Linked DNA regions of Homo sapiens. The protein of the gene in region 1 interacts with the protein of each later gene in a pairwise test. Each region holds a gene or a part of one and is shown on either strand. Other genes may lie near its edges.

The links.
Region 2: the proteins of CELF3 (region 1) and SOBP interact in a two-hybrid assay, tested with the Homo sapiens proteins (one large-scale study listed by BioGRID and IntAct).

What each region holds. Positions count from the first base shown.
Region 1 is NC_000001.11:151,702,430-151,707,457, reverse strand, and holds part of CELF3 (CUGBP Elav-like family member 3), read left to right. Parts: intron 1-163; coding exon 164-313; intron 314-723; coding exon 724-789; intron 790-1,096; coding exon 1,097-1,234; intron 1,235-1,492; coding exon 1,493-1,636; intron 1,637-2,289; coding exon 2,290-2,417; 3' UTR 2,418-2,427; intron 2,428-4,009; 3' UTR 4,010-5,028. UniProt on the Homo sapiens protein: RNA-binding protein involved in the regulation of pre-mRNA alternative splicing. Mediates exon inclusion and/or exclusion in pre-mRNA that are subject to tissue-specific and developmentally regulated alternative splicing.
Region 2 is NC_000006.12:107,502,831-107,507,142, forward strand, and holds part of SOBP (sine oculis-binding protein homolog), read left to right. Parts: intron 1-826; coding exon 827-965; intron 966-974; exon of another isoform or gene 975-2,236; intron 2,237-3,411; coding exon 3,412-3,597; intron 3,598-4,312. UniProt on the Homo sapiens protein: Implicated in development of the cochlea.

The sequences.
Region 1 (5,028 bases):
GGAGGGGCACAGGGCATTGCTCAGGGAAGCCTCGGGGTCTGGGAGGGACTCAGGGGTCAGAGAGGCCTGCTTCCTCCCCTCTGCCCACAGACTTGCTGACTGGTTCTCTGCCTGTGTGTGTGTCTGCTCCTCTGCTCTCTCCCTGTCGCTTTCTCCTCCCCAGGAACCAGCACCCCTCCTGCCATCGCTGCCACGCCTGTCTCTGCCATTCCGGCTGCCCTGGGCGTCAACGGCTACAGCCCGGTGCCCACCCAGCCCACTGGGCAGCCTGCCCCTGATGCTCTGTATCCCAACGGGGTTCACCCCTACCCAGGTGGGACTCTCTGCCTGCCCACTCCGTCCCAGCAACCATCTAAACCACCACTCCCATTAGGGAGGCAGGACACACCTTCCCTCCCAGCTTTGGGGGTACAGGTGCTTCCTCCTGCCCTGCCATCCTGGGCGGGGATGATCCTTCCTGTTGGGCTCGGCCAGGAAGCTGAGGTGTAGAGCAGTGAAGCGACCTGTCCAGGGTTGCAAGACAGTCAGACCCAAGTCTTCCTAACGCTGGGCTCTTTCCCCTCTTCCCACTGCTTTGTGCATTTCTGCCTTCTCACTTCACACCCCATGCCCAGAGAAGCTCTGCTCCCCACCTGCCTGGCCTCGGCCCAGAGGCCCAGAGAGGCACTGAGGGCCCCCACTGTGTGCCAGGTCCACGCTCATAGTCTGTGCTGCTCTCCCCAGCCCAGAGCCCCGCGGCCCCCGTGGACCCCCTGCAGCAGGCCTACGCGGGGATGCAGCACTACACAGGTGAGGCGCCCTAGCCAGGGCCCCTGCTCAGGTGGGAGAGGTGGCAGGAGGAAAAGAGGCCCAGTAACTGGGTCTGGGCTTCTTGGCTCCCTGCCAATCACCCTCTTCAGGCTTTACTGACAAGCCCAACTGTGGGGAGGGGTCTTTAAGGGCAGCACACCCAGGGGTCTGAGGCAGCTCCTTCCCTGACCACCTCTCAGCCCTGCAGGTGCCACTGGCCTGGGCTAGGGGAAGGGAGACAGGGTTGGCTGGGAGGGCTCAAGAAGTCAGGGAAGCCCCATCAGCCTCTCTCTTCTCCCCACCCCAGCAGCCTACCCAGCAGCCTACAGCCTGGTTGCACCTGCGTTCCCGCAGCCTCCAGCCCTGGTCGCCCAGCAGCCCCCACCACCACCTCAACAGCAGCAGCAGCAGCAGCAGCAGCAACAGCAGCAGCAGCAAAGAGAAGGTGCTGGCTGGGGCCTTGGGAGACAGGAATGCCCTCGTTATGGGCTTGGGGACTCCCTGTCACCCCGCGCTGAGCCCAGCTCTTGCCCACGTGTCAGGATGAAAGCAAGTGGGGAGGGAGTGGCCGGAGACTTGGCCCACACTGTCAAGGACTGGGACTGGAGGGCACTCCCAGGATCTGCTTTCCCTGGGACATTTGCTTCTGGGGTGTGTGCCTCCCAGTCACTGAGCTCTTTCTTCTGTCTCTGTCGCCACCCAGGCCCTGATGGCTGCAACATCTTCATCTACCACCTGCCCCAGGAGTTCACTGACTCAGAGATCCTCCAGATGTTTGTCCCCTTTGGCCACGTCATCTCAGCCAAAGTCTTTGTTGACCGAGCCACCAATCAAAGCAAATGTTTTGGTAAGAATATGATATGGCACATTTTTTGCCATACTCCAAATCAGGACAAGGTCTAATATATTTGAAGGCATTTATGGTCACAGTGGACCCAGTATTTGAAATACTGATTATCCAAGAGTACAAAAGAGCCATTTTGACACACCCAACATGCCACACCCAGCTGCTGCCTCGGCCCATCTCTTCTTCCTTCAGCGTTTCTCTTAAAAACTGGCCAAATTCATGTCCCATGAGGTCTGAAATAGGCTTATGGTCTGGGGATGTTTGGTTTGCAAAAGGTGGGCTTGGGGAGTCGGTTTTAGCTGCCTTCACATCTTTGAAAGTCTTCCTCAGGGGAGAAAGGGAATGTTCTTCTCTGCTTCAGAAGCCATTTAGGGTCTGGAAGTGGCCGTTTTCAAAGGGCAGGCTCAGAGCTATCCAGGCAGAGGAAGGGGTCACTGGCACAGAATGCTGGGAAGAATGTGGTAGTTGGAGTGGCTGGACTGGATTCATCCATTCAACCCATCAATCAACAAATTCCTAAGGAATGCTGCTATGTGGCAGGCAGCTTTCTAGGCATTTGGGACACTTGGGAGACACAGGGTAGTGCCAGAGGTCTCCTAAGCACGGAAGAGCGAGGTGGGGCTGGGCCGGGCCTTATGCCCCTCTCACCCCAGGCTTTGTGAGTTTCGACAATCCGGCCAGTGCCCAGGCTGCCATCCAGGCCATGAATGGCTTCCAGATCGGCATGAAGCGCCTCAAAGTCCAGCTAAAGCGGCCTAAGGATGCCAACCGGCCCTACTGAGGGCCCCCAGGTGGGTCCCGCTCCGTTGTGGCCTCCCTCCCCAGCTTCACACACTGCAGCCAGGGCCCTCGATTGGACTACACCCCCAACCCCTGTCCTCCACCACCCTCAGGGATGCCCACCCCACCCTTGACCCTGGGCACTTGAAGCAGGGGGCTGGGGCAGCTCCCTCAGCTGTTTTTCAATAATCTGAGTCACTCTCTCTCTCTCTCTCTCTCTCACACACACACACCCTCCGTGACCCCAGAAAGAGCCAAGTCTTTGTATATATGTGTCCACTCCCTGGACCTTCCACAATATCTGGTCTCGTTTGTCTGGTCAGTGTCCATGTCTGTGTGTGTCTCTTTCTGGTTTTCCTTCGGGTTAGAGTGGAATTAGGGGAACAGGACTGGAGGATTAAGGGGTTGGCTGAGGGTGCCAGAGGGCCCTAGAATCCTTGGCTCCTAGAATCTCTGTTGTCCTGAGAAGTGAGGACATCAGCCCTGGTTTCCCTGGACTTCAGGTGATTTTTCCCATGTAGCAGCAGACCCATGGGGCAGCAGAGTGCACAGGACAGACTGGGGGAGCCCATTTTCAGGCCTCTTGGGAGTTGCTCTGGTTTAGGTGGAAGAGGTTGAAATGTCGCGCCGCCTGTGAAGTTTACTTAGGTCTCCTCCACCCCATTGCTGGCCACCACCTCAACCTCATGGCCACAGAGCTGTGAGCCTTGGTTACTTTCGCACTGTTTAATCTCCTTTGGACCAAACCCTTGAGAAAACACAACCCAAGAAAAATACCCACATTTTCTGTTTCTCCCCTTTCCCCCCAATCCTGGCTGCTTAACTCCCCCAACCCTGGGGGCCCCCCCAGCCCAGGGCCCGTGTCCATTGTCGGCCGAAGCCCCCATCCCCGGACCCCTGCTCCGGGCCCCTGTAAGTTGCATGGAACGAGCGTGTTGTCTTTGGAGCCGATTGTTTGTTCTTTGGGGAGGGGCCGCGGAGGGAAGCACCCCCAAGCCCAAGGTCAGGGCCGGGGGCAGCTCGCGGGACGTGCTTGGTCTACAGTGGTTGGTGACTGTGGTCTGTGTTCTGTGCATTTCTCTTGCTTTCTGTGTTCCTTTCCAAAAAGGAATGAGAGCACTAACTGGGGGCCGGGGGTGGTCTCACCCCATGAGACTCCATCCCTGAGCCGTGACCTGGGCTCTGCCCTGGCCTTCTCTGCGGGTGTTCCCTTTCTTTTTCCAGGTGTCTGTCTCTTACACGCACCCCCTTCTCTGTCTCTCTCTCGATTTCTCTGCCTGCCTGTCTGTTGTCATCTCTTTGCCTCTCTCCCCCTCCAGTCTTTATTTTTCTCATGGGCTATCTATTTCCTTCCTAATACCGTTTGGTTTCCTGTATGGTTTGCCCCCTCCCTCCTGTCTCCTCTATCCCTGCTCTCATGGCTGGGGGTGGGGGCAGATGGGTCCGTTTGGACTGAGGCCTGATGATCTGCCTTCCTCAGGCAGCCCCATCCTAGATGCTGTCACTCACCCCAGCCCCCTCCCCTCCCCCAGAGCCCGTGATCCGCATCGGGGGTCTCTTCCCCATGCTTCACCCATGTTTCTTCCTTCACAGGTCTGGAGATCCCAGAGGAAGGGGCGCCTCACACCCTCTTCCCACGACTGGCCCCGGCCCTCTCCGCACACCTGCCCTGGGCCTTGACTGGGTTCTGGGGCAAACGCTGCTTCGTGGCCCCCGGGGGCACAAGACACCGGCCCCTCCCACCCCCCTGCCTCTCTGAAGGGCCATGGCTATGCTTCCCTGGCTCCAAGGGCCCATTTCCTCCTAGATGCCCTTTTGGCCTTTGTGAGGGAGCGAGGAACAGGCTCGAAGGCTCCGGGGTATCTGCCTTCTGCTGGGCTCCTGTGACAGGCCTTCTGTACCCAGCGTTTGTACTTGCCTCCCCCAACAGTGGGCCTGTTCTACCCGTGCAGGCCCCAGGAGAGCCGCAGGGGCCTGCCACACACTCCCAGCTCACCCTCACCCCAGCCTCTTCCCCACATTAGGGGTTTCTTGGAAGCTGGCTCTCACTCCCCTCCACCCTCAGCTAGAGGTAGGATATCCCTGATTCCTGGGCTCCCAGCCCTAAAACTCACTGCCTCCCCCAAGGGCCCCCTCTAAGGAGGGTGTGGGGGAGCCCTGAGGGCTGCCTCTCTGCCAGTCAGCCACAGAGACCCTCCTCCTTTCACGAGGAAAAGACCTTCCCCTGAACCCCTAAAAATGTTTACAGTCTCTGCTGGTTCCCTCTGTGTAAATACCACTACCACCCGTGCGTTATCCAGCCCGCCCGGCCTGGCCCGGACGCTGCCATCTCTCTTTCTGGGAGTTTAGACAATGTTGCCCTTGGATTTTTTTCTCTCTCTTAATTTCTCCCTTTGCTTTGGGGGGTAATTGGGTATTGGGAGGAGGGGTGTGGGGAGGGGTCAAGGGGTTTATTACCTGATCATTTTCTTTAGGAAGAGGTTTTAGGGAAAAGAAAATGGGGTGGGGGTGGGGGTGGTAAGGGGAGACCGGGGAGTCAGTTTCAGACAGTTCTCTATGCTTAACTTATTTATTTATTGCATTTTACTTTTAAAGAGTTGGTCTTTTCTGTC
Region 2 (4,312 bases), on another chromosome or scaffold:
GCTCACTGCAACCTCTGCCTCCCAGGTTCAAGTGATTCTCCTGCCTCAGCCTCCCGAGTAGTTGGGATTAAAAGTGTGTGCCACCAGGGCCAGCTGATTTTTGTATATTTGGTAGACAAGGGGTTTCACCATGTTGCCCAGGCTGGTCTTGAACTCTTGACCTCAAGTAATCTGTCTGCCTCAGCCTTCCAAAGTGCGGGATTACAGGCGTGAGCCACCGTGCCTGGCCTGATTTTTGAAAAAACTCTTGCAGAAGGAAAAAAATAAAAAAGGAAGACCCTTGTAACCTATTGTAACCTAGCTTTCTGTATGGTACTGTTAACAATTCTGAAATTTTTCTTTGTTGAAATTTGGCGTTATCCGCGATAAGAGTTATCTTAAGAAAACAACACCTAAATCAGAAAGCAATTTTAATTGAAATTGATCTGAACCACAAAAGGTTGTTTTCATTTTCAAAATCTTTTCTTAGCTGTTTTTGTGATTCACCTTTCAATATTTTTGTATTGATGTTGGATATAGATTTTATAGACTAATGTGCTAAAATATGACTTCCTGTTCATAGGCAACACTAACAAATATAGTTAGTCTTTTTTGTCTTATTATCTTTAAATTACAAATATCTGAAGCCCTGTCATAATTGAATGCATCATCCTAAGATTTAAAAACATTATGGTTTTGAACATGATTTGAAAAATGAACACCACACTAGGGGAAGTGAGGCAGGGCTGCAAATAAATGAGGTAGGACAAGCAGAATTCAATTTATGCATTCTTTTCAAGTAGTTATTGATTATAGAAATAAGTAGTAGCCTATGCTTCTCTTTCAGAACTTTGCAGAAAACACCATGAATGAACTCCTTGGCTGGTATGGCTATGATAAGGTTGAATTAAAAGATGGTGAGGATATTGAATTCAGGAGCTACCCTACAGATGGGGAGAGCCGGCAGCACATTTCTGTTCTCAAAGGTAATGACATTTAATGTCCTTTTGTTCATGCAAAGAAGGATTAACTATCTCAACCTGCCAGAATTGAGTTGCTTTGGGACTCAATTGAGTTGCTTTGTTGATTATGCCAATGGTTGATTTAAACATACATCCCCAATAGTGCTTTCCCATAAGCAGAATTCTGCAGAATATAAAAGAACAACATAAAACAAAAATAGACACAGCTTAATCTCCTCCCAGCAATGGGAGAACTAGACAAGGACTAGCGACCTAAGTGCCATGGTCCTGCATACAGATTTAAAGAAAGGGACAATGTTTGCTAACTAGAGTTTCCTGATCACTTTGATAGATCATCATCTGTTGGGGACTGGGGTTTCTGTTAAGTGAAATGTTAGGTTTAGATCTTCAGACTGCTAGAGAGATTCACTGTTAGTTTGGTAATCCTCCTTCCTTTTTTTCAGTGGGAAATCTAAACGGAATTACTATTTTTGTTTTGCTTGACATTTTCATTCTTTCCCTGCCCCCACGCACTTGAATAGGGTAAAAAGAGGAGTAAGAGAGTGGTAGATGATTAGAGCCTATATTACTCTTTAAGAATTTTTTAATCAAAGCCCAGCTAAAGAGTGAAAATTACAGAGCCTTGGCAGAGCTGAATTAACACTGATTCTACCAGTGGGTAACAGTGCCAGATATCTCATGGGGGAAGTCTGTATGAATACTGAATTTATGAACCTAAATTAGGAATGAGAGCTTGCTTGTCAAAGAAAAGAGAAGTATGTGAAGAAGCAGCCCATTCAGGAAACTTTAATAAAATGTGGGTAAAACAAATTATACATCATCACTGGCAATTTGATCAATATTTGCGTTGCATTCAAAATCTATTGGCATAAACTACCTGTTCAAACGTTTTATTTCCAGTCTTTAAGATAGAGCTTTCCCTTCTTATATGCCAAGCAAGGAAATGTAATTGAGCTGCCCTGCAGGCAAGTGGAATTGAATGTACATGACAAATTTTATGTTAAGCTTACTATGAAATTGTACACATCATGCTACAGAGATAGTATCATCAATTTCACTGTAAATGAAAAATGCAAGTCATGAGTTTGTATTCTATAAACTAATAGCTCATATAATACTTGGCCTAGGTAATAATCTTTGCTTCTGGGGAACATACAGCATGCCAGGATATGCTACTAGAACGAAAAAGTTGTTTTCCATGGTTGAGGTTTTTGTTCATTTGTTTTTTTAAGTGATTCACATGCAAGGATACGATGCACAAAGCTCATATCGTTGTAAGTTTTTAAAATTTTTATTTTTGTTATTTTTTAATGGGTATTATCGATACCTTGTGAAGCATCAGTTTTCTTCCCTGTTTCTTTCTCATTGGTTCATGTGATTATATTATGATACAAGTTTATAATACAGTGGGACCTAGTTACAATGCTGGAGGGCACGTTTTAGGCTTTCCCCTGGTAGCCAGAGAGCTATGCTTGCTGTATATCATGTTGTACATGGAAAAAAAGGTTAATTGCCTCTCAATTTTCTTTTCTTTCTTTTTTTTTTTCTGAGACAGAGTCTTGCTCTGTCACCTAAGCTGGAGTGCAGTGGCGCGATCTCAGTTCACTGCAACCTCCGCCTCCTGGGTTCAAGCGATTCTCGTGCCTCAACCTCCCAAGTAGCTGGGATTACAGGCGTGCGCCACATGTCTGGCTGATTTTTGTATTTTTGGTAGAGACGGGGGTCTCACCATGTTGGCCAGGCTGGTTTCAAACTCCTGGCCTCAAGTGATTTGCCCGCCTTGGCTACCTGAAGTGCTGGGATTACAGGTCTGAGCCACTGCGCCTAGTCACCTCTCAGTTTTGTTTTGTTTTGTTTTGTGTTGTTTTTGTTTTTTGAGATGGAGTCTTGCTCTGTCACCCAGGCTGGAGTGCAGTAGCATGATCTCAGCTCACTGCAACCTCGGCCTCGCAGATTCAAGTGATTCTCTTGTCTCAGCCTCCCGAGTAGCTGGGACTACAGGCACACATCACCATGCCCGGCTAAGTTTTGTATTTTTAGTAGAGACGGGCTTTCACCATGTTGGCCAGGCTGGTTTTGAACTCCTGACCTCAGGCAATCCACCCTCCTTGGCCTCCCAAAGTACTGGGATTACAGGCGTGAGCCACCTTGCCCAGCCACCACCTCTCAATTTTCTATGGAATTTTACAGTGCTAAAATTTATCACCATGATTCAACTGGAATATTAGCTATCATAGTGGAGCAAATTATAAAGGAGCCCATTGGAAATTTATGGTAACCACACTAAAAAGTTCCTGGATGAACTGTGGAGTTCTAGTACATTGTTTAAAGATTTGCAAGAAAAAATATGTTGGGTTCATGGCCATTTTACTTGAGAAAATAAGGAAAAATTTAAGTCTACTGCATTACATTCCTTGGTCACATTGAATATGATTTTTTTCTTTTACAGAAAATTCTTTGCCAAAACCAAAATTACCCGAGGACAGTGTTATTTCACCATACAATATAAGCACAGGCTATTCAGGGCTTGCCACTGGAAATGGACTCAGTGACTCACCTGCAGGGTCAAAGGATCATGGCAGTGTGCCCATTATTGTACCTTTAATTCCACCACCTTTCATAAAGCCACCAGCAGGTAAGTCACTACTGGTGTTTTCAGTGATAACAATTCATAGAAAGTTGTTTTAACCATCTTAGGAATAATTATTAAATGCTCAAGTTAACTTTGGTAGAGGCTGTTTTAGGGACCTTATAGGTAAGAAATGTTAATACAGGCATCACTTAGAGTATTACTGTTACATTAGGAAAATTTCCCTACCTACTACTACTTAGGCTATAAACTTTCAACTGACAGTAAACCTTTTCTACCACTGACTACAAAACAAAGTTATTTTCCTTCTCTGAAATCACCTGTTTAAATGAGAAAAAAAAGATAAAATGGTTTTTAAAAATAAAATATAGACAATGACTGTTTAGCAAGAAAAAAAAGTAACCATGGTTGGCTTGTAATCCCTGCACTTTGGGAGGCTGAGGCGGGCGGATCACCTGAGGTCAGGAGTTTGAGACCAGCCTGGCCAACATGATGAAACCCCATGTCTACTAAAAATACAAAAAATTAGTTAGGTGTGGTGGCGGGCTAGTAATTAGCTAGTAATCCCACCTACTCGGGAGGCCGAGGCAGAAGGATCACTTGAACCTGGGAGGCAGAGGTTGCAGTGAGCCGAGATCACGCCACTGCACTCCAACCTGGGCAACAAGAGCAAAACTCCGTCTCAAAAAAAAAAAAAAGTAACCATGGTTGAAAACTGGGTGGTGCATAAGGAGGGCCACATCTCCTCTGGGGTCTTCTG